Linked DNA regions of Homo sapiens. The protein of the gene in region 1 purifies or fractionates together with the protein of each later gene. This does not show direct contact. Each region holds a gene or a part of one and is shown in the gene's direction. Other genes may lie near its edges.

Evidence for each region.
Region 2: the proteins of SDHAF4 (region 1) and TMLHE purify together in Homo sapiens (affinity purification with mass spectrometry; one large-scale study listed by BioGRID and IntAct). This does not show direct contact.
Region 3: the proteins of SDHAF4 (region 1) and PPTC7 purify together in Homo sapiens (co-immunoprecipitation; one large-scale study listed by IntAct). This does not show direct contact.
Region 4: the proteins of SDHAF4 (region 1) and NLN fractionate together in Homo sapiens (co-fractionation; one large-scale study listed by BioGRID). This does not show direct contact.

What each region holds. Positions count from the first base shown.
Region 1 is NC_000006.12:70,579,714-70,585,368, forward strand, and holds part of SDHAF4 (succinate dehydrogenase assembly factor 4, mitochondrial precursor), read left to right. Parts: intron 1-5,655. UniProt on the Homo sapiens protein: Plays an essential role in the assembly of succinate dehydrogenase (SDH), an enzyme complex (also referred to as respiratory complex II) that is a component of both the tricarboxylic acid (TCA) cycle and the mitochondrial electron transport chain, and which couples the oxidation of succinate to fumarate with the reduction of ubiquinone (coenzyme Q) to ubiquinol.
Region 2 is NC_000023.11:155,503,752-155,509,406, reverse strand, and holds part of TMLHE (trimethyllysine dioxygenase, mitochondrial isoform 1 precursor), read left to right. Parts: intron 1-2,272; coding exon 2,273-2,509; intron 2,510-5,655. UniProt on the Homo sapiens protein: Converts trimethyllysine (TML) into hydroxytrimethyllysine (HTML).
Region 3 is NC_000012.12:110,572,493-110,578,147, reverse strand, and holds part of PPTC7 (protein phosphatase PTC7 homolog), read left to right. Parts: intron 1-5,655. UniProt on the Homo sapiens protein: Protein phosphatase that plays an essential role in mitochondrial metabolism and biogenesis. Positively regulates biosynthesis of the ubiquinone, coenzyme Q. Dephosphorylates the ubiquinone biosynthesis protein COQ7 which is likely to lead to its activation.
Region 4 is NC_000005.10:65,724,422-65,730,076, forward strand, and holds part of NLN (neurolysin, mitochondrial), read left to right. Parts: intron 1-5,655. UniProt on the Homo sapiens protein: Hydrolyzes oligopeptides such as neurotensin, bradykinin and dynorphin A. Acts as a regulator of cannabinoid signaling pathway by mediating degradation of hemopressin, an antagonist peptide of the cannabinoid receptor CNR1.

The sequences.
Region 1 (5,655 bases):
TGACCATCGATACATGTAGATTTCTTAATAAAAAAGATTTTCAAGATTCTGACAGGTATTTGATTGTGTTTGTTTTATTTGTTATACCTCATTATTCACATAACAAAATATATAAGTTGAGACCTTCTTTGTTACAAATAAATGATGTTATTTGTATCAAAGAAGGTTATGTTATTTGTATCAAAGATCTTATGTGAATAATGAGGTATAATAAATATAACCACTTTATATATGTAATGTACACATATTATATATAAAGGACTCCAATAACTCAACGAAAAGTCAAAAATAGCAAAGCACTTGAGTCTTAACTTATATATTTTGCTATATGAATAATGAGGTATGATAAATAAATAACAAATATATGTGTATATTATATGTATGTGTGTGTGTGTGTAGAACTCCAGTAATCTACAAAAAATAAAAATAAAAAATAGCAAAGTATTTGAGTAGACATTTCTCCAGAGAAGGTATACAAATGTACAAATGGCCAACAAACACATGAAAAGATGCTCAGCATCAGCATCATTATCATTAGGGAAATGCAAATCAAAACTATGAGATACTACTTCATACCCACTAGGATGGCTATAATAGAAAAAAATGGAAAATAACAAGTGTTGGGAAGGATGTGGAGAAATTGAAACCCTCAGGCATTTCTGCTGGGAATGTAAAATGTTGCAGCCACTGTGGAAAACAGTATGGCCGTTCCTCAAAAAATCAAACTTAGAACTACCGTTTGACCCAGCAGTTCCACTCTTAGGTGTGTATCTAAAGGAATTGAAAGCAGGGACTTGAACAGATATCTCTGTAACTATGTTCATAGTATTATTAACAGTAGCCAAAAGGTGGAAACAACCCAATGTTCACAAACAAATGAATCATTAAACAAAATGTGGCATATACATCCGGTGGAAAACTATTCAGTCATAAAAAGCAATTAAATTTTAATATATGCTACAACATGGATGGACCTTGAAAACATTATGTTTAGTGAAATAAGCTGGACCCAGAAGGGCAAATATATGATTCCACTTATATAAGGTACCTAGAATAGGCAAATTCATAGAGACAGAAAGTAGAATAGAGGCTATCAGGGACTCCGGGGACTAAGGGAGAAGTCATTGTTTAGTGGGTACAGAGTTCATTGTGGGGATGATGAAAATGTTTTAGGTATAGATAGTGGTGATGGTTGTACAACCTTGTGAATATATTTTTGTTGTTGTTTTTGTTTTTGAAATGGAGTCTCACTCTTTCACCTAGGCTGGAGTGCAGTGGCACACTCTCGGCTCACTGCAACCTCCGCCTCCCAGGTTCATGTAATACTCCTGTCTCAGCCTCCCGAGTAGCTGGGATTACAGGCACACCACCACACTGGCTCATTGTTGTATTTTTAGTAGAGATGGGGGTTTCACCATGTTGGCCAGGCTGGTCTTGAACTCCTGACCTCAAGTGACCAACCCCCCTCGGCCTCCCAAAGTGCTGGGATTACAGGCGTGAGCCACTGTGTCTGGCAGTGAATGTATTTAATACTACCAAATTGTACACTTACAAATGGTTAAATGAGAAATATTATGTTATATATATTTTACCACAGTAAAAAAAAAAGAAAGCAAAAACCTGCACTTTTCAAAAGCTAATCATCTATTTGACATAATGGTAGGCATTCAACGTAAGTCTTGTATCACTCAAGTTTATGTTGAACCTACCATCCCTTAGAAATTTCTGACAAACATCACCAAATACAGCAGGTACTCTTCAATCCTTGTTTTATTTGAACAATCCACAACCTTTGACAGTGTTAACTATTGCTTCTGGAAATCTCCTGCCTTGATTTCCATTATGCTTTCATTAGTTTCATTTTTGTGTGTGTATGTATGTGTGTGTGTGTTGTTTTGTTTTGTTTTGTTGAGACAGGGTCTTGCTCTGTTGCCCAGGCTAAAGTGCAGTGGCATGAACACATGGCTCACTGCAGCCTTAACCTTCCCAGCTCAAACTGTCCTCCTGCCTCAGTCTCCTGAGTAAGTGAGACCACAGGCACATACCACCATGCTCACCTAATTTAAAAAATTTTTTTGTAGAGATGAGGTCTTGCCATGTTACCCAGGCTGGCCTCAACTCCTGGGCTCAAGCAGTCCTTCTGCCTCGGCCTCCCAAAGTGCTGGGATTACAAGTATGAGCCACCATTCCTGGCATGCTTTCTTTAGTTTCTCACCCTATTTCTTCACCAGTTTCTTCCTGGGCTCCTTTTTGAGCTCCTCTGCCTCCGCCCAACACCTAAATGTGGGTATTTGCCAGGCCTCTGTTCTTAGCCCCCTAAGTATTCCAAGGGAGATTTCATATTTCCCTAAAATGATTAGATTTATTTGATTGATTGAGGCAGAGTCTCACTCTGTCACCCAGGCTGAAGTGCAGTGGCGCCATCACAGCTCACTGCACCCTCAACCTCCTGGGGTTCCCTACTCAGCCTCTCCTGTAACTGGGGCTACAGGCACGCACCACCACACCTGGCTAATTTTTCTATTTGTTTCTTTAAGAGATAGAGCTCAGTATGTTGCCCAGGCTGGTCTTGAACTCCTGGGCTCAAACGATCTTCCCACCTCAGCCTCCCAAAATGCTGAGATTACAGGCATGAGCCACCACGCCCGGCTTAAAATGATTTTAAATATCACCTATGTGTTGGTGATTCATACATTTATACCTCTAATCAGACCTCGTTCCTGAGCATCACTCTCCTGTCTCCATTTGCCTCCTGAGTATCTTTCTTTGCACATTCCAGAAGTCTCAAAATTAATATTTCTAAAACTAAAGTCATCGTGTACCCATTGTTCCAACTCACCTTCGGCCCTCCCACCTGCCTGATCTCATATCCTCCTCTTCCTTCGGGATTTCCAGTCCACCCCATCTACCAAGTCACCCAAGCCCGAAATCTGGGGATAATCTTTCACTCCTGCCTCTTCCTGTCTCCTGTGACTGATCACTAACCAAGTCCTGTTGCTTCTACCCTTTTAACATCTCTCAAATTTATTCCCTCTTACTCATCCTACCAGTAGGGCCCAAATTCAAGCTGTCTCTAGCTCCACTGGTCACCTAACAAGCCTCTCTGCTTCCTCGTTTCCTTCCTTCTAGTCTTGTCTCCCTGCCTCTAGTATGTACTTTATTCTAAGAAAACTGTGTAGGTTGTCTCCTTGAAAAGAGTAGATTTCATTATTAAGATCATAAAGGAAAATGTTTGTAGCTAGGCACCCTGCTTGACATAAAGATGAATAAGAAAGGAAGATGAGATAATGTAAATAACGATGAACAGGACATCATGTGGTAACTAGCATGAGAGATACACAAAAAGATCAGAGGAAAGTCGACAAAAGAGATAACGTTTGAGCTGGGGTCTAAGGAAAAATAATTTTTTGTTTTTTTGAGTTGGAGTCTCGCTCTGTCACCCAGGCTGGAGGACAATGGCGCAATTTCAGCTCACCGCAACCTCCGCCTCCCGGGTTCAAGCGATTCTCCTGCCTCAGCCTCCTGAGTAGCTGGGATTACAGGCGTCTGGCACCACACCTGGCTAATTTTTGTATTTTTAGTAGAAACGGGGTTTCACCATGTTGGTCAGGCTGGTCTCGAACTCCTGACCTCAGGTGATCCACCTGCCTTGGCCTTCCAAAGTGCTGAGGTTACAGGTGTGAGCCACCATGCCTGGCCGGAAAAGTAAAATTTTTATAAGTAGATAAGGTGTGGTGAGGAGACATTTCAAAATACCTGGAGAAAGCTATGGTCAAAGAGAAAGAGGCTGCAGAACATTAACACTTACAAGACACAGCTAATGGGCCTCTTTGGCTTCAGCATAAATTATATATATATTTGATTAATACAGGGTTGTCCAATCTCTTGGCTTCCCTGGGTCACATTGGAGGAAGAATTGTCTTAGGCCACACATAAAATACACTAACAACAGCTGATGAGCTAAACAAAAACAAAAACAAAACAAAACAAAAATCACACAAAAAAACTCAATGTTTTAAGAAAGTTTATGAATTTGTGTTGGGCCACATTCAAAGCCATCCTGGGCCACATGCAGCCCGTGGACTGTGGGTTAGACAGGCTTGGATTAATTGAATATAAAGCTAGACACACAGGTTCAGCTCAAATCTGGGAGGGCCTGAAATCCCAGGTTACAGTGTAAGGGCTTTATGCAGTGAGCAGTGAGGAAATGTATTTGGATAGAGGTTGTTTTAATTAGCTTTATTAAATATAGTCTGCATATGATAAAATTCACCCATGTTAAATATACAGTTGAGTGAGGTTGTTGTTGTTGTTGTTGTTGTTGTTGTTTGAGACGGAGTCTTGCTCTGTTGCCCAGGCTGGCTTGCAGTGGTATGATCTCGGCTCACTGCAACCTCTGCCTCGGGTTCAAGCGAGTCTCCTTCCTCAGCCTCCCTGGGATTACAGGCACCTGCCACCACACCCGGTTAATTTTTGTATTTTTAGTAGAGATGGGGTTTCACCATGTTAGCCAGGCTGGTCTCGAACTGCTGACCTCGTGATCCGCTCGCCTCGGCCTCCCACAGTGCTGGGGTTACAGGCATGAGCCACCACGCCTGGCTAGTGAGTTTTAACAAATGTTTACAGCCATGGAAACCACACAAAGTGTAAAATAGTTCTGTCCCCTAAAGAGGTACAAGGCAGTTCATCCTCTCCCCACCTCCTCCCAGCAACCATTGATCTGTTCTCTATCACTGTAGTTTTGCTTTTTCTAGGATTTTATATAAATGAAACTCTACAGTATGTAGTCTTTGGTGTCTGGTTCCTTTCACATAGTATAATGTGGAAGAGGGATTCTGTTGTATTAGTTCTAAAATGGGACACTGAGAGCAGGAACCAGGGTGGTAATGGTGAGAACAAAAAGTTTCAGAAAACTGCAGGCTATTATAAGGGCAAAAATTAGGTTAACAAATGTGAGGAAGAAGAGACATGGAAAGATACGAGGGTGTGGTCAGAAAGAAGAGTGCTCAAAAGAGTGTGGGATTTGGAGGAGGAACATACTCAAAAAATAATAAAGTCCAGTGGACAGCAGAAGTAGATACGAAAGTCATCAGGAAAGAGATTGGTGACCTTTGTGGCCTCGATGTGTGATGATTTACTAATGTGGATGTTGATATTAGGGATGATGGGGAGAGAGAGATGAAACTATGAACCAGATATTGATCCCATGCAAGAAGACAGAAGAATCTTGGAGTTTATTATAAGACTAGAGAAAAGCACTGGATAAGTAAATGGTATAGAATTCCAAAAAGGAAAGGCTATAGAGGTGTGGCATTAGAATGAGAGGCTGGAAATAGCAGTGAGGAGCAGGGACATCTTGACCTGTTCTTTCTTCCCCAGTGCTGTGGACTGAATTATGTTCCCCCAAAATTCATCTGTTGGAGCTCTAACCCCCCAGGTGATGGTATTTGGAGATGGGGCCTTTGGGAGATAATTAGGTTTAGATCATGAGAGTAAGGTAACTCTTTAAGAGATGGAACTGTTTTACACTTTGTGTTATTTACATGACTGTCAACATTTGTTAAAACTCACTGAACTGCGTACTTAAAATGGGTGAATTTTATTATAAGCAGACAATACTTTAATAAAGCTGATGGGAATCTCCTCATGGTGGGA
Region 2 (5,655 bases), on another chromosome or scaffold:
GGCATCAACCAGACCCAGATTTGCATTCCAGCCTCAACATGTATTAGATTTGTGATCTTGGACAAGTAACTTAATTTCTCTGTACTTCAGTTTCCTCATCTGTAAAATGGGACTAGTAATATAAAACCTATCCATTAGCATTGCTAAGGAATTAAATTATATGATCATATTGCCTGACACAAACTAACCTATCCATTAGCATTGCTAAGGAATTAAATTATATGATCATACTGCCTGACACAAACTAAGTGTTCAATAAATATTAGCTATAATTTTCATCATTTTATTCATTTTAATCACTATCTTCATTGTTATATGCTTTACTCTCTCTAAAGCTATCTTTGCTCTGGATCTCATCCTTTCCAGCTTCCTTGGGGATTTCTCTCTCCTCTATCTTCAGCCTTTCCATACCTATTGACTCCTTCTTATCAGCCTCCCATATCTTAATTCTCTATTTTTGTACTTCCTTGGACTCTATCTCCGTTTAGCTACAGCCATGTTTTTTTCTTCCACTTCATGGCTAAGATTATTAAAAGAATAATAGCTACATTCAATATATTTTCATTCTCACTTCCCATTTACTCCTCAAACCCATAGGCATCTAGTTTTCCCAACCCACCCCTCACCGCAATTAAAGTTACTCTCTCTAACGTCACCAGCAACTAATTGTCATATCCAGTGTGTACTGTCATCTTACTTGATCCCTGAGACATACCATTAACCACTACTAAATTTCTTAAATATTCCTTCTTTCCTAGTTTTCTTCCTATATATCTGACCATTTTTCCTCAGCCTCCTTTGCTGGCTTCTTTTGTCTATTTCCTAAATATTATTCTTCCTCAAGGTTTTCTCCTTATCCCTCTTTTCTTACTTGAAATGATCTCTCCAAACGACCTCTTCCATGCTCTTGGCTTTAGCTATCACTTGTAACAAAATCCACCTCTCTTCCTTAAACATCTTTAACTGGTAACTAAATAACCCTGACCTAGAAGTTTCACAGAAATTTCAATATGGCCAGGCTTACCTTTCTCTTTTTAATTGTATTTATATTATATTAGATTGTCCTTGATTTTACTCCATATTTTTGTTTATTTCTTATTTTAATTTGCTTTTTACTTTTTCTTAGTTTTGCATATTTGATTAAATTACTATTAATTTTATTTTCCCTCATAAGTTTGAAAATTCTACCTTAGTTTTCCAGTCAATTAATAGTCACCTTACCTTTCCCTGTTAACATATTCAGAAACTGTATATGATTAGCTGTTCTAACATGCCTCTAAACTGAACTCCTTCCTCAACCTCTCATACTTCCTCATTATCATTCAACAGCATATCTGTCTGTAATCTCGGTCTTAGTAAATAGCATTATCATTTTTCAGGTGCCCAAGTGAGAAACCTGGAGTTATTCTAGATTCTTGCCTATCCTTCAGTTATCAAATTCTGCTACTTCTATCTCGGTATCTCTCAGGTGTGTCTTCTTCTCTATAACGCCCCTTTCTGAGTTCAAGCTCTCAATATTTTTCTTTACTATTTCAGTTGTTCAAGTTGGTTTCCAAGTTTTTTGTCACGTTGCTTCTCACCAGTCCATGTTCCACACTATCAACATAATGGACTCTTTAAAATATTGATATGGCCGTAGAGTTTCACAGTTTAAAATCATTTTGTGGTTCTCTGTGCTATGCCAATAGGAACTTCTTACTCCTTGTTGTTTTACATTGGTATCTTTGGTCATGCTTTCTCTCCGCCTAGAATGCCTTCTCCTCATCTCAATCTCCTTCTACTCCAATTCTTGCTCATTCTTTAAGATTAGTCAAAACAATTTTCATTCTTCTCCAAAACATTTCTTTATACAACACCCCGCTAGAACAGATCATTCCTTTGTTTATGACCCCACTATATCTTGTATGCAACTTTATTATAGTACCTATCATATTTTATTTGGTATTTATTTGCTTTAGTTCTTCTTACTAGACTATGAGCTTCTTGAAAATATAGGTTATATATTATTCATGCCTGTATTCCCAGGGCCCAGCACATATAAGCTTCAATATATGTTAGATATGTTTAGAAGAAACCTCTAGTGGCATTAATATTTCAAAACACAAAAAAGTACAACTGCCTATGAGAGAAAAACAATTAAGAAATGAGATTTCCAATTAGGAAATGAAAAGAAAATGACAAGTAGTTTCAGTAATCATTTTATATATAATTTCTAGAATTTTGATATGTTCTCTCTTCCACTGAACAGAAGAATTTTCTTTTCTCTCTTTAGCATTCAAGTGTTTCATTGTCTTAAACATGAAGGAACTGGTGGCAGGACACTGCTAGTAGATGGATTCTATGCAGCAGAACAGGTACTTCAAAAGGCACCTGAGGAATTTGAACTCCTCAGTAAAGTGCCATTGAAGCATGAATATATTGAAGATGTTGGAGAATGTCACAACCACATGATTGGGATTGGGCCAGTCTTAAATATCTACCCATGGAATAAAGAGCTGTATTTGATCAGGTGAGTATCAAAGAACTATCCCCAACTGTAATATATTTGCCAAAGATTAGCCTTCTAATGTAACAAAAATCCCTAAGATTCTTATATCTGCTACATTTTAATCTTGCTATTCTATAGCTTTTTATTATCAAACAGTTTGTATTCTTCTTATAATTCCCATGGAATAGTAAATAGCCACCAACCAAAGAATACTAGGTTTATTTTAGGGGTGGGGTCAAATATTAGAGGTAGTATTTTTTAAATGAAAACATTATTAAATGAAAAAGAGTTATTAAATTATCCTCAGTGACCAAACAGCTAGGTTACCCAACAACATTTATGTATCCAGCCCAGATTTATGCAAAGCTCTTGACCTGTGTATTCAATTGACTACTGATATCACAACTTAGATATTTTGTAGAATATAAAACATATCATATTCAAACGTGAACTCATCACTTCTACTCATTTTAAACCTACTTCTCCACTTGTTTTCCCATTTTCATTGAATGGTACCACCATCCACTAAGTTTCCCAAGCCATAAACCAAACATCATATTTAATTTTTCCCTCTCCCTTATATTACACAACCAGTCTTATCAACTCAATCTCCTATATTTTTCTCAAACTATCCCCTGCTTTCTATCTACAATGCCTCTTCTTGCAGTGAGAACACTTTTCTTTCCCATGGCTAAAGTTGTAACTGATGTCCTTGCTTCCATTGTGAGCCCTCTTCCATTAATTTTTCATGCTGAGTCTTATCTTCTGCTCCCATGTTAAGATCCTTCTAAACCTCCCCAGTGTCTTTCAGAGAAAGACTAGAGTCCTTCCTTATGGCTTTTAAGGTTCTGTATGATCTGATCCCTTCTTACTCTTCTAGCATGTAATTCATGTTTTCCATACATTCTTCCCTAGCTATTCCAAACTGCTTTGGGTTTCTGGAGCCCATTATTTTGCATCTTGCAGCCAAGCTTTTTACTATGCATTTTTGCAGATGGATTACCGCTCCTGCTTCTGCTTATTCCAAGCAAACTGTTACTGTGCATTAATTCAGTTTACTCAGCAAATATTTCATGAGCATCTACCAAGAGTCATGCTCTGTTCTTGACACTGCAGATGAAACTGTAGGCACAATAGACAAAAATTCCTGGCCATCTTGGAATTCTCATTATAGTGACGACAGAGTAATTAAAAATAAATAAGCAAATATATAATATATCAAATTGTGATAAGTACTAGGGAAAAACAAAAAAGCAGGGAAGGAGATATGGGGTGAAGAGGCAGGGTGAAGATAGCTGCAAAACTTGACATACTACAAAGAGTACAGGCTTTGTAATCAGAAGGAGTTCAGTGTGAAATCCTGTCTGCCATTTATTGATTTTTGGCCTTGGACAAGTTACTTAACCTGCTAGTCATGAGTTTCCAGTTACAATAATAATACCTTCTGTGCCCACTTGTTGTGAAGTTAAAAATAAATTGTTATCCTTACCTTTACCCCTGGCTTGTAGGAGGAACTGTGTAAATATTAATTTACTTCCCTTGGATAAGTTCCTCTGGGAAACTCTCCCTCTGTTATCTCTCATATATCTAAGTGCCTAAAACAATGAGTAGTAACTCTATTTTCCCAACATTTTATTATGAACATTTCTAAACATATAGAAAAGTTGAAAACATTTAACACAGAAAAGCCATAGACTTACATCTAGATTCTACCATTAAGATATTTCTATACTTGCTTTATCACCTATCTTCCCATCTATTCATTCATCAGTTAATCTTATTTTCAGTGAATTTTAAAGTATAATACATTGCAGATATCAGTACATATCTCCCTAATACTTCAACATTTATATCATTAAGTAGAGTTCAATATTTGCTTACAGCTTTTTAAAGTTACAATGTATATGCAATGATGTTTAAAATATTAAATATACACTCACTGAGTTTTGACCAATGCATATACCTATTTAACCCAAACCCTTATCAAGATATAAAATATTACTATCACTACAGGAAGTACTCTCATACTTCTGCACATACATCTCAGAGGAACCCACAGTTTGATTTTCTTTTACCACTATAGATTAGATTTTTGCCTGTTCTGTTTATCTCTTCTTTTATGAATACACATCTGGACTCTTTCCAGTTTCAGGTTATTATGAATAAAGTTGCTGTGAACATTCATGTAAAAGTGTTTTTTTTAATATGTTTTCATTTTCATTTCACTAAGGTAAATACCTAGGAGTGGAACTGCTGGGTCATAGAGTAGGTGAATGCTTAGTTTCATAAATAACTGCAACAAGTTTTACCAAAGTACTTGTACCATTTTACACTGTCATCAACAATGTATGAATTGTAGCTGTTCCAAGGACATGCCACACTCTTTTAAACGACCAACTCTTGCAATGAATTCAGAGGGAGAACTCACTCATTACTATGAGAGTGGTACCAAGCCACCCATGAAGGACCTGCCCCCATGATGAAAACACCTCCCACCAGGCCCTACCAAAACTTGTTTGCTCTTTGCTTTGTTTGCTTATAATAGTCATTCCAGTGGCTGTGAAGCGGTATCTTACGGTGATATTTTTCGATTTTAAAAATGGATTTAGAGGGTACAAGTGCAGATTTCTTACATGCATATATCGCATCGTGGTGGAGTCTGGGCTTTTAGTGTACCCATCACCTGAAGAGGGAACATTGTACCCAAGAGGTAATTTTTCAACCCTTGTCAACTTCCCACCCTTTTGTAGTCTCCAATATCTATTATGCTACTCTATATGTCCATGTGTACCCATTGTTAAGCTCTCACTTACAAGTGAGAATATGTGATATTTGACTTTCTGTTTCTGAATTATTTTACTTAAGATAACGTACTCCAGTTCCACTCATGTTACTGCAAAACACACGACTTCATTATTTTTTTATGGCTGCATAGTATTCCACGTATATGTAAAATGCAGATGGGTAGATACCCAGTAGTGAGATTGCTGGATCAAATGGTATTTCATTTTTTACCATGTTTAGTTCTTTGAGAAATCTATTTTTAGTTCTTTGAGAAATCTCCATACTGTTTTCCATAAATGTGATAATTTACATTCCCACTAACAGTGCATAAGCATTACTTTTTTCTCCACATCCTCACCAACATCTGTTGTTTTTTGATTTTT
Region 3 (5,655 bases), on another chromosome or scaffold:
CTGATGAGAAAACAGGCCTCCAGAGAGTCAGATGACTTCCCCAAGGTTACTCTACTAGTTATTGGTGGAACTGAGGCTGACACCTATCTCAGTCTCTCATCTGAGACTCCCTTTCCCAGTCCTGTCCCCGTTAGACCACTGGTCAAGTTTTCTTGATGATATATGTGAATTAAAAACCAGTCAGTCTCCTGATACTTTTGTGCTTCGAATGCTTTTCCTGGGTGTGTGTGTGTGTGTGTTTATAACTTCTTTATTCACTCTGACTCATAACTGATGTGCAACAAAAACTCCTCTGCATGCTAAACCACAGTTTAGAGAAACCACTTATTTTAAAAATGGCAGCCTGGTCTGTGCCATATAAATTTTGACCTCTGAATATTGAGTTGTAAAGTATTTATTATGAAACTGTGGGATGTTTATTTAAGCTTAAACTTGAAACCTAAAAGTGAAATTAAAATAATTTCATATCCCAGCCTTTGGATCTGATTTTGATCGTGGTCAGGATTTTGAAGTGTTTTTGTGAGTAATGTCAGTCTTAAAAGTAGTTGTCTTGAGGTGTAAAGATCATATGAACAAAATTAAGATCTAAATTATATTTAGGAAGTGAATGGATGAGGTAGAATTTGGTGTTTTCAAACAGTCATGATCATTTTAATGTACTTATAGAACCTCTATTCTGAAAGTGAGTTGTCCTTTTAAAAAAGTAGTCACCTTCAGAGTGTGTGTGTGCACCCACTGACTTCAGTCTTTCAAGAAGTCCTTGTTGGAATTTTCCTCAGCTAGATTTCAAGCCATGTCAGGACACCACTCTCATTATATTACCATAATTTTTTTTTCTTTTTTTTTTTAATTTTACTTTTTTTAAATTCCAGGATACATGTGCAGGACATGCCATAATTTTCTTAAAGTCAGATTCCAGCATCATCTACCTGTTGATAGCAAATATGACCCTGAGTGAATTTTTTTTTTTTTTTTTTTTTTGAGACAGAGTCTCGCCCTTGTGCCCAGGCTGGAGAGCAGTGGCGCGATCTTGGCTCACTGCAACCTCTGCCTCCTGGGTTCAAACAGTTCTTCTGCCTCAGCCTCCCAAGTAGCTGGGATTACAGGCACCCACCATTACACCTGGCCAATTTTTATATTTTTAGTAGAGACGGGGTTTCACCATGTTGGCCAGGCTAGTCTCGAACTCCTGACCTCAGGTGATCCACCTGCCTTGGCCTCCCAAAGTGCTGGGATTACAGGCGTGAACCACGTGCCCAGCCCCTTGAGTGAATTTTTAAAAACTGATATGTATAATTCACATTCCATAGCATGTATCCTTTTAAAGTGTACAGTTCAGTAGTTTTTACATTCACAAAGTTGTACAGCCACTGCCACTATCTAGTTCCAGAATGTTTTTCATCACCCCCCAAGAAACCCCCTATCCATTAGCAGTCACTCCCCATCTCCCTGGCAACAGAAAGCAGATTCTGTCTGTGGATTTGTGTTTGAGACATTTCATACAAATGGATCGTGTAATATGTGGCCTTTTCCTTAGCATGTTTTCCCTTAGCATGTTTTCAGAGTTCATCCATGTTGGAGCATGTGTCAGTACTTCCTCCCTTTTTATGACTGAATAATGTTCCATTATATTTATATACCACATTTTGTTGATCCATTCATCTGTTGATGGCCATCGAGTTGTTTCTACTTTTGGCTATTGTGAATAGTGCTGTGCACATTTGTGTGCAAGCTTTTGTATGGACATGTTTTTAATTTGAGGGGATATATACCTAGGAGTAGAATTGCTGGGTCATATTGTAACCCTGTTTAACTTTGTGAGGAATATAGCTGTTTTTTTATGTAGCTATATAATATTAATATACATATAATTATTTTATATAAGGGAAAATACTTTAAAAATTGCAGCAATCAAATATATAAATTCTGAGATCAATCAGTACTTTAAATATGCCTGATTTCATAATGAGCTGTGTGCTTCCAAGAGAAAATTGTGGAATATTAATAAGGAAGTGTGAGTGGATTTAGTAAAAGAGCCATCTAGGACTAATGAAATAGCAGGGTTTAGGAAGCCATTGACTAGTGGCTTTCTGACTATTCTGAGTGGTCTTTCATTCTGTAATACATAAGATTACAGGGTTGATGGATAGAGGAGGTTTGCTGTTTGCTTTTTAAACTTCTGTTCCTTGGTATTTTTCTCATTTTGCTATATAGGTGTGTTGCAGTTTTATAAGTTACTTATTAAGGTACCTTTATTTTTGAAGTCATTTCTTCATTTGTTATAGCTTCAGAGCTACTTTTCCTTTGTTCACAAATCTTTTGAGATTTTCTAGCTTAGTTTAAAATTTTCCTAACTTACAGTTTATCTCTTGATTTGTTAACAGTCTCTGTAAAGGATTCTGGTTGAATCCTTTTGTAGTGCAAGTAATTGAATTTTAGAAGCATAACTGTTTATTAAGGAGGTTTTAAATTGTAGCAGAAGGTAGATTACAGATGCAAGCTGTTGTGGAGCTTTTTTTTTTTTTTTTTTTTTTTTTTTTGAGGTGGGGTTGCTGCATGGGAGGAGGCTGTACCCTGAACTTTAGCACTGGTTTGTGAAACTGGGCAATACATAACCTGAATTGTTGCAACAGTATCCAAATGGAGTTTGTACTAGTGTGTGACACCAGAAGCACTACACCGGGTTAGAATGTGACCTACAACCATGTCCTTTGAGTAGCTCAAATGCTAAAGTTAAGTTCAAGCTAAATGTCAAATTCATTTTATGTTCCCATGCCTTTTAGAGAGAGGTCTTGCCTGGGGCTTTAGGTTCAGAAGTTTTAGGAAAATGCTTTGCAAAAGTAAGTTAGCAGTATTTTATTTCTAAAGAAATTTGACTTTTCAAACTGGAAGTTTTAGTTTATGAAAAATAATGTGAGTTTGCCTTTCAAAATTAGTTGTTAACTTTTGATCTCTTTTTAAGAAGTGATGTCCTGGATCCTAATTTTTGTTGTTAGTAATAAAATTTATGAGTCTGTCTTGTTTGGGAGTCGTCATATATTTTAAAAACCTGATAGGGGCCGGGCACGGTGGGTCACAACCTATAATCCCAGAACTTTGGGAGGCCAAGGCGGGTGGATCATTTGAGGTCAGAAGTTCAAGACCAGCCTGGCCAATATGACGAAACCCCATCTCCACTAAAAGTTTAAAAAAAAAAAAAAAAAAAGCCGGGCATGGTGGCGAGTGCCTGTAATCCTAGCTACTAGGGAGGCTGAGACATGAGAATCGCTTGAACCTGGGAAGCAGAGGTTGCAGTGACCCGAGATCGTGCCACTGCACTCCAGCCTGGATGATAGAGCCAGTCTCTGTCTCAAAATAATAATAATAATAATCTGATAGGGAGTTTTCTGTCTCCCTGAGAACTAAAATAATTTGTTTCCTAACAGTTCACAAAATTGCATATCATAAATCAAGACTTTTTGTAAAAGCTGACCTATTGCAGAGGGCATTAGGCTAACACACGACTTATTATTCATTTCAACTTGAGTTGACAACTGGCACAGCTCTTTCAATTTAGTTTAAAGTTTTTAAAGAAGAAAAGAGATGCTAAATGTTTTTGAATAAAATCTCTAACAGGAAAAATCCCCAACAGGATTGGGGGTTGAGGATTGGGCAATGGGGAAGGACAGAAGCTTTTCTTTAAGGAGTAAAAATGCTTCATTCTTTTTTTTTTCTAAGCCAGTTGTTTCATATCTGACACAAAACATGATTCTCCCATCCTTCTAGTGCTTTATATAGTGCCTTAGAAGTTGCAAAGCATTTTTATGTTTTACCTTATTTAATCTTTGTAACTACGAAGCTGCTGCTCTTATCTCCACTTAATGTGAATCTGTTTCCTCATCTATAAAACTGACACATCAAGTAAGGGTGGTATAGTTAGTATTATATTGGGACTTGAACCTAGGTCTCTTGCTTGCATGTCTAATGCTTTTAATTTTTTTTTTTTTTTTTTTTTTTTTTTTTTTTTAATTATTGTGGAGACAGAGTCTCTCTGTGTTGCTTGGGCTGGTCTCAAATTCCTGGGCTCCAGCAATCCTCCCACCTCAGCTTCCCAGAGTACTGGGATTTAAGGCATGAACCACGTGCCCAGCCTGTGTAGTGCCTTTATTTATTTATTTATTTATTTAGAGACAGAGTTTTGCTCTTGTTGCCCAGGCTGGAATGCAATGGCACAATCTCGGCTCACCGTAACCTCCGCCTCCCGGGTTCAAGCGATTCTCGTGCCTCAGCCTCCCGAGTAGCTGGGATTACAGGCATGTGCCACCACACCCGACTAATTTTGTATTTTTAGTAGAGACGGGGTTTCTCCATGTTGGTCAGGCTGGTCTTGAACTCCCAATCTCAAGTAATCTGCCCGCCTCGGCCTCCCAAAGTGCTGGGATTACAGGTGTGAGCCACCGTGCCTGGCCTGTGTAGTGCTTTTAAATAAATGGATGTTTAGTGCTTATAAAAGTAACACATCTTCAGAAAAGTACCATATAAAACACCTATAAATCATAACTCAGCTATAGTAAGCTATAGTCATTGTGGTTCCCTCTAGCCTTTGTGTATATAATTGTATACATGTTATTAAAAAACAGAATACATGTTGGATTAATATGCATCCTACTCTGTAAAGCTTTTAAAAAGTTGCAACAGTGTGCAAATGGAGTTTTTAATAGTGTGTGACTCCAGAAGCATGCTGGAGTGCATGTTTCCATACTGGTAAGCATAACTGCATCATATTCTCCTGCATGTATAGCCCATCAGTTACTAAACCAGTCCTCTATTTGTAGTTATTTAGGTTGTTTCCAATTTTCTGTTATAAATAACACTAGAATGAGTATCTCTTTACATCTGAATATTTCCTCAGGGTAATTCCTTGAAGAGGAATTCCTGGGTCAAAGCCTATGAGCATTTGCAAGGCCTTTGATATAAAGATGACCATAGGGCCGGACGTGGTGGCTCACGCCTATAATCCCAACACTTTGGGAGGCCAAAGTAGGTGGATCACTTGAGGTCAGGAGTTTGAGAGCAGCCTGGCCAACATGGTGAAACCCCGTCTCTACTGAAAATACAAAAATTAGCTGGGCGTAGTGTCGGGCGCCTGTAATCCCAGCTACTCTGGTGGTTGAGGCAGGAGAATCACTTGAACCCGGGAGGCGGAGGTTGCGGTGAGCTGAGATCATGCCACTGCACTCCAGCCTGGGTGACAGAGTGAGACTCGTCTCAAAAATAAATAAATAAATAAATAAATAAAAACTTAAAAAAGATTACGATAGGTCCTCCAGAAAGGTTATATATTACTTTCCCAACTGTGGTGAAATTGCTCTCATCAGCAAGCTTATTGTTGATCTTGAGTCTGTCTCACTTAAGAATTTATAAATTTACTAGGTTCCTAAATAGTTGTTTTTGAGGTGAATAAGTTCTAGAATGGATTGAATTGTTGGTATGAATCCTAAGGACTACAAAATGACTGCAAAAACTTTGCCAGAGACTACGAAAGTGACTTTCTACAAAGAGTGCTTTCTGCTGAAGGGCCCAGTACTATTTTTACTTGGTGAATTCCAACACACGTTTGCACTGTTCTCGTATTCATTAACAGAGTATTTTGAAGAGAAAGGGAATTTATTTCTT
Region 4 (5,655 bases), on another chromosome or scaffold:
TTTCCTTTTTAAAACTGAATAATATTTCATTGTATGTATATACCACATTTTGTTTATCCATTTGTCAGTGGACATTTGGGTTGCTTCCACCTTTTGGCTATTGTGAATACTACTACTATGATCATTAATGTGCACATGTCTGTTTGAATCCCTGCTTTTAATTCTTTGGGATACTGTATGTACCTAGAAGTGAAAATTGCTGAGTCATAGGATAGTACTATGTTTAGTTTTTGAAACCATACTGTTTTCTTCAGTGGCTGTACCATTTTTACATTCCCATTGGCAGTACCTAAGGATTCCAATTTCTCCACATCATCATCAGCACTTATTTCCTGGTTTTGATAACAGTTATCCTAGGAGTGGCATTGTTTCTTTTTTTTTTCTTTTTTTTTTTTTTTGAGACAGAGTCTCTCTCTGTCGCCCAGGCTGGAATGCAGTGGCGCTATCTCGGCTCACTGCAAGCGCCGCCTCCCGGGTTCACGCCATTCCCCTGCCTCAGCCTCCCAAGTAGCTGGGACTACAGGCGCCCGCAACCACGCCCGGCTAATTTTTTTTTTTTATTTTTAGTAGAGACGGGGTTTCATCCTGTTAGCCAGGATGGTCTCGATCTCCTGACCTCGTGATCCGCCTGTCTCGGCCTCCCAAAGTGCTGGGATTACAGGCGTGAGCCACTGCGCCCGGCAGAAGTGGCACTGTTTCGCATTTTTGCAAAACTAATGTGTGACATAATAGAAGGTAACTGGATTCTTATGTCTGCCTCTGCATTTAAGCTGCTGCACTGTTTCATTTTGGTTTAAGATGAAGAAAATCCCACCTCACAGTCATATGAAGTTGGAAAGAAGAATATTTTAATAGCTTTTTAAAGATAATCATGGATGTTCTTTGATATCACATCAAAGTTTGACAAATCGTAGCTTTTTAAAGGTTAGTTACAAAGTGGAATTTGAAACTATATCAATGTACTTGTTTTACACTGTTACATTAATATCCAATGGTGTACCTTACACTTTGAATGGATGTTGAATCCATGCCTGTTTTTTAAAACATTAAGCATAAGTCCTTCGGAAATTTTAGTGGTTCACTGTGTTATACAGTTCTTCCTAATGTTGACATATTTCATTATACAGTATCAAACAATCACTTTCCTTAATGTCTTCCTATTTAGTCGGAAAAGTCTTCAAGTATTGGGAAGCTGTCAAGCTCACAGTGGCAGATAGGATTTTCCAAAATTCTAGTTTTCACTTGAAAGCTAGAATTTTATCATTGGTAACACAAACTGTCAGTTGTTTTACTTGAAGTGACAATCTCACTTTGTTACATTTTTGACAGAATTTCTGCCACATACTTAAGTCTGAATAACCCTGGTTTGTCTGTCAGTAGTTTTTTTCTGGTAAAAATGGTGTTCCATGGGCTGGGCACGGTGGCTCACGCCTGTAATCCCAGCACTTTGGGAGGCCATGGCAGGTGGATCACGAAGTCAGGAGATCGAGACCATCCTGGCTAACACGGTGAAACCCTGTCTCTACTGAAAATACAAAAAATTAGCCGGGCGTGGTGGCGGGCGCCTGTAGTCCCAACTACTCGGGAGGCTGAGGCAGGAGAATGGCGTGAACCCGGAAGGTGGAGTTTGCAGTGCGCCGAGATTGTGCCACTGCACTCCAGCCTGGGCGACAGAGCGAGACTCCGTCTCAAAAAAAAAAAAAAAAAAATGGTTTTCCATGAAAAAAATCTATTTCAGCTCACAGTTCAACCAATTGCAAAAGTGCTTTTGATTTGGGCAACCAAATCCTCAGGACAACCCTTATACTCAGGTACACAGCAGAAATGCTTTGTGTGTACTTGGTCACATATAACTCAAAGGTAGAGATTTAATAAAAATTCATACTTTTTACCATTTCATTAAGGATATTCTAAAATGAAATTGACATTATTTTTAGCCTGAGTGCATGGCAATGAAAAATATAGCTACTAGTATAGTTTGGTGTCATTGCCTCAATTTGTGCTGAAGTACCAACAGTATTATCCACCATTCCTTTTCGCCATCAGTGCAAATGTTCATAAAGTAAAAAGGATAAATAATGTCTTAGTATTGTTATGAAAGATTTTTAACCTCACAGATTCCTTGAAAGTGTCTCAGGAACCCCTCCCCATACCTCTACCTTTAAGGTTTGTGGACTACATTTTGAGAGCTGCCGATATGTGGTATTAGATTCTTTGTTTATGCATGGAAGAAAATAAATATACTAATAGCCAAAAAATTATTACCTTGTTAGAAGCTACCATAAATATATTAACTAATTTGTTACATAAGGGCATATCTTACAGTTAATCATCATATATGGTAGTCCTTAACCCAGGGCTTCCTTGACTTAATCACAGAATCTGCTCTGTTTCAAAATCAGTATCTTCCAAAAGAGTTCATATTAGACAACATGGAGGACCCCCTGTGTTCTCCTGTTTTTCCTGTTTCCTCTGACACTTGGGAGTTCATTTTAGTGTTATGGAGTAACTAGGCTTTTGCCTAACTGACTTACAGTTTCCATTGGGTTTTCTTGTTGGCAGAGCTGCTATATCCCCTTCCCAAGGCCAGCTTCCAGCTAGGATCATTGATTGGGGTGTTCAGCCAACTTCTTGGGAATAAGTGGACTGAGAATCTGGAGTTTGGATTATAGTTGCTGTTCAATTCACTTTGTGACCTTAAAAAAATCACTCACTCCCTTGGACCTCTTTCAAGTTATGTACCTATGTATGTATGTATTTTAGAGACAAGGTCTCACTCTGTCATCCAGGCTGAAGTGCAGTGGGGCATGATCATGGCTCACTGCGGTCTCAAACTCTGGTTTCAAACAATCCTCCCTGCCTCAGCCTTCTGAGTAGCTGGGACTACAGGCGCTCACCACCATGCCCAGCTAATTTGAAAAAATTGTTTGTAGAGATAGGATCTTGCTATGTTGCCGAGGCTAGTCTAGAATTCCTGGCCACAAATGATCCTCCCATCTCAACCTCTGAAAGTGCTGGGATTACAGGAGTGTACTATCATGCCTGGCCCAGGTTCCTTATATTGTAAAATGAAAAGGACTAGACTAAATAATAGCTAAGGCCTTAAAAAAAAAACAAAAAGCAAAAAACCTCTATATTGCCATAGCAAACCAGGAGAATTCCTCCTCCTACCTCAGATTGTACAGCATGTGACCCAAGCAAAGCCTAATGTATATTATAGAATAAGAGGGATGAGTGACATGGTCAAAGAAACAAACGAGAAGGTTGACTCAACAATATTTAGCCGAAACAATAGCTGTAATAGCCTAGCTTCCTCTTGCAATTAGAAAAGACAGCTTGGTTTGTTTTTTGGTTTTTGTTTTTTTGAGACAGTCTCGCTCTGTTGCCCAGGCTGGAATACAGTGGCATGATCTCGGCTCACTGCAACCTCTGCCTTCTGGGTTCAAGCAATTATCCTGCCTCAGGCTCCTGAGTGGCTGGGATTACAGGTCCCCACAACCACGCCTGGCTGATTTTTTGTATTTTTAGTAGAGCTGGGGTTTCACTATGTGGGCCTGGCTGGTCTTGAACTCCTGACCTCAAGTGATCTGCCCACCTCAGCTTCCTAAAGTGCTGGGATTATAGGCGTGAGCCACTGCACCTGGCCTAAAAAACACAGCTTGGTTTTTTAAAATGATGACAGCAATGCGTGTTCATTATTGAAAACTTAGCAAGTAATGACAAGCAAAAGAAAATATTAAATATATATATAATCCAGCCACCTGGAACAGCCAATTCTTAACAGCTTTCAAAATTTCCTCTATGAACAGACTTTCTTTTTATAAATATGATATTGTTATTCTTTTATAATTTTTAATATTATACAAACATCCCCTAAAATATAAATAGCTATAATATATTCCTTTTGGGGATGTATGCAATTTGATTAATATACGCCTTTAGAAATGTCAACTATTCCCAACTTCCTGCAATGAGTAATAGTGCTTGGATAAACATTCCTATTGTCCTTTTCCAAATCTTTAGTTATTTTCTTAGTATAAATTCTTACAAATGGAATTTGTACATCAAAGGGCATGCATACCTTTCAGGTCTTTGGTACTTATCATCTTATTCTATTCTAAAAACTTTCTCCCAAATTATAACCTTACCAGGTGAGTAAGTAAATGCTGGTTTCCTATACTGTTACCAACATTGAGCATTTTAATTTTTTTTATCCTTACCAGTTTGATAAGTGGAAATTTCTCTTATTATAATTTGCATTTTCATACATTTTTGGAAGGTTTATTCAGTGAGTATAATTCCTAAACAAAAATTCAGGAGTTGTGGTCTGGAAACCAAAAAGTTATTTGTTGTCTGATGTGAAAATTTATTTATATGGAAAATCTTAGAAAGTCAGACAAATTCAATTACAGTTTTCTTGGTGTTTTTGTTTGTTTGTTTGAGACAGAGTCTCACTTGGTTGCCCAGGCTAGAGTGCAGTGGCATGATCATGGCTCACTGCAGCCTCGACCTCCCGGGCTCAAACGATCCTCCCACTTCAGCCTCCCGAGTAGCTGGGACTACAGGTGTTTGCCACCACACCCGGCTAATCTTTGTATTTCTTGTAGAGACAGGGCTTCGCCATGTTGCCCAAGCTGGTCTCTAATTCCTGGGCTCGAGTGATCTGCCCGCCTCAACCTTCCAGAGTGCTGGGATTACAGGCATGAGCTACTGGGCCCAGCCTAAATTACAGTTATTAATAAACTTAACAATATTTACAGGTCTAAGTGTAATTAAATAAAATTGAGATTATTCCTCTAAAACCAGTAGGCATAATCTCCAAAATGTTAAGAGAACAGTATTGGGGAAAAAAATCTAGTAAAGAAAGGGTTTTTTAAGTTAAAGTATCAAGAGCTAGGTTGACATTATTTGTACAAATGGATTTGGTTATAAAATAGGTTTTCTTTTCTTTTTTTTTTTTTTTTTTTTTTTAGGATGGAGTCTTGCACTGTTGCCCGGGCTGGAGTGCAGTGGCACGATCTTGGATCACTGCAACCTCCGCCTCCTGGGTTCAAGTGATTCTCCTGCCTCAGCCTCCGGAGTAGCTGGGATTACAGGCACCTGCCACCACGCCCAGCTAATATTTTGTATTTTTAGCAGAGACGGGGTTTTACCATGTTGGCTAGGCTGGTCTCGAACTCCTGATCTCATGATTCACCCGCGTCGGCCTCCCAAAGTGCTGGGATTACAGGCGTGAACCACCGTGCTCCGCCGAGGATTGATTTCTTTCTTTTTTGTTTGTCCTTTAACCCTGGTTTTGGTCAGAAGCAACCTGGTTCTTTCTCAGAGTTAAACATTATCACCTCTTTGGTTAAGACAAAGCACAGGACTTACTTGGGAAGAATCCCCTGAATTAAAGATATGAAGAACCAAGGAAACTGATGTGTATTGAATACATATGTAAATGCCAAGCTGCCGCATTGCAAAGTGCATGTAGCATCATAGAGTCGACTATATAAATCTAGAAACAGCTCGCCTGAGTTTGAATGCTGGTTTTGCCACTGACTAGCATTGTGATCTTAGGCAAGAATACTTAAGTTCTCCGTATCTGTTTCCTCCTCAGTAAATTGATAATTGATTGGCTGATTTCTTCATTCACCAAATATTTATTGTCTA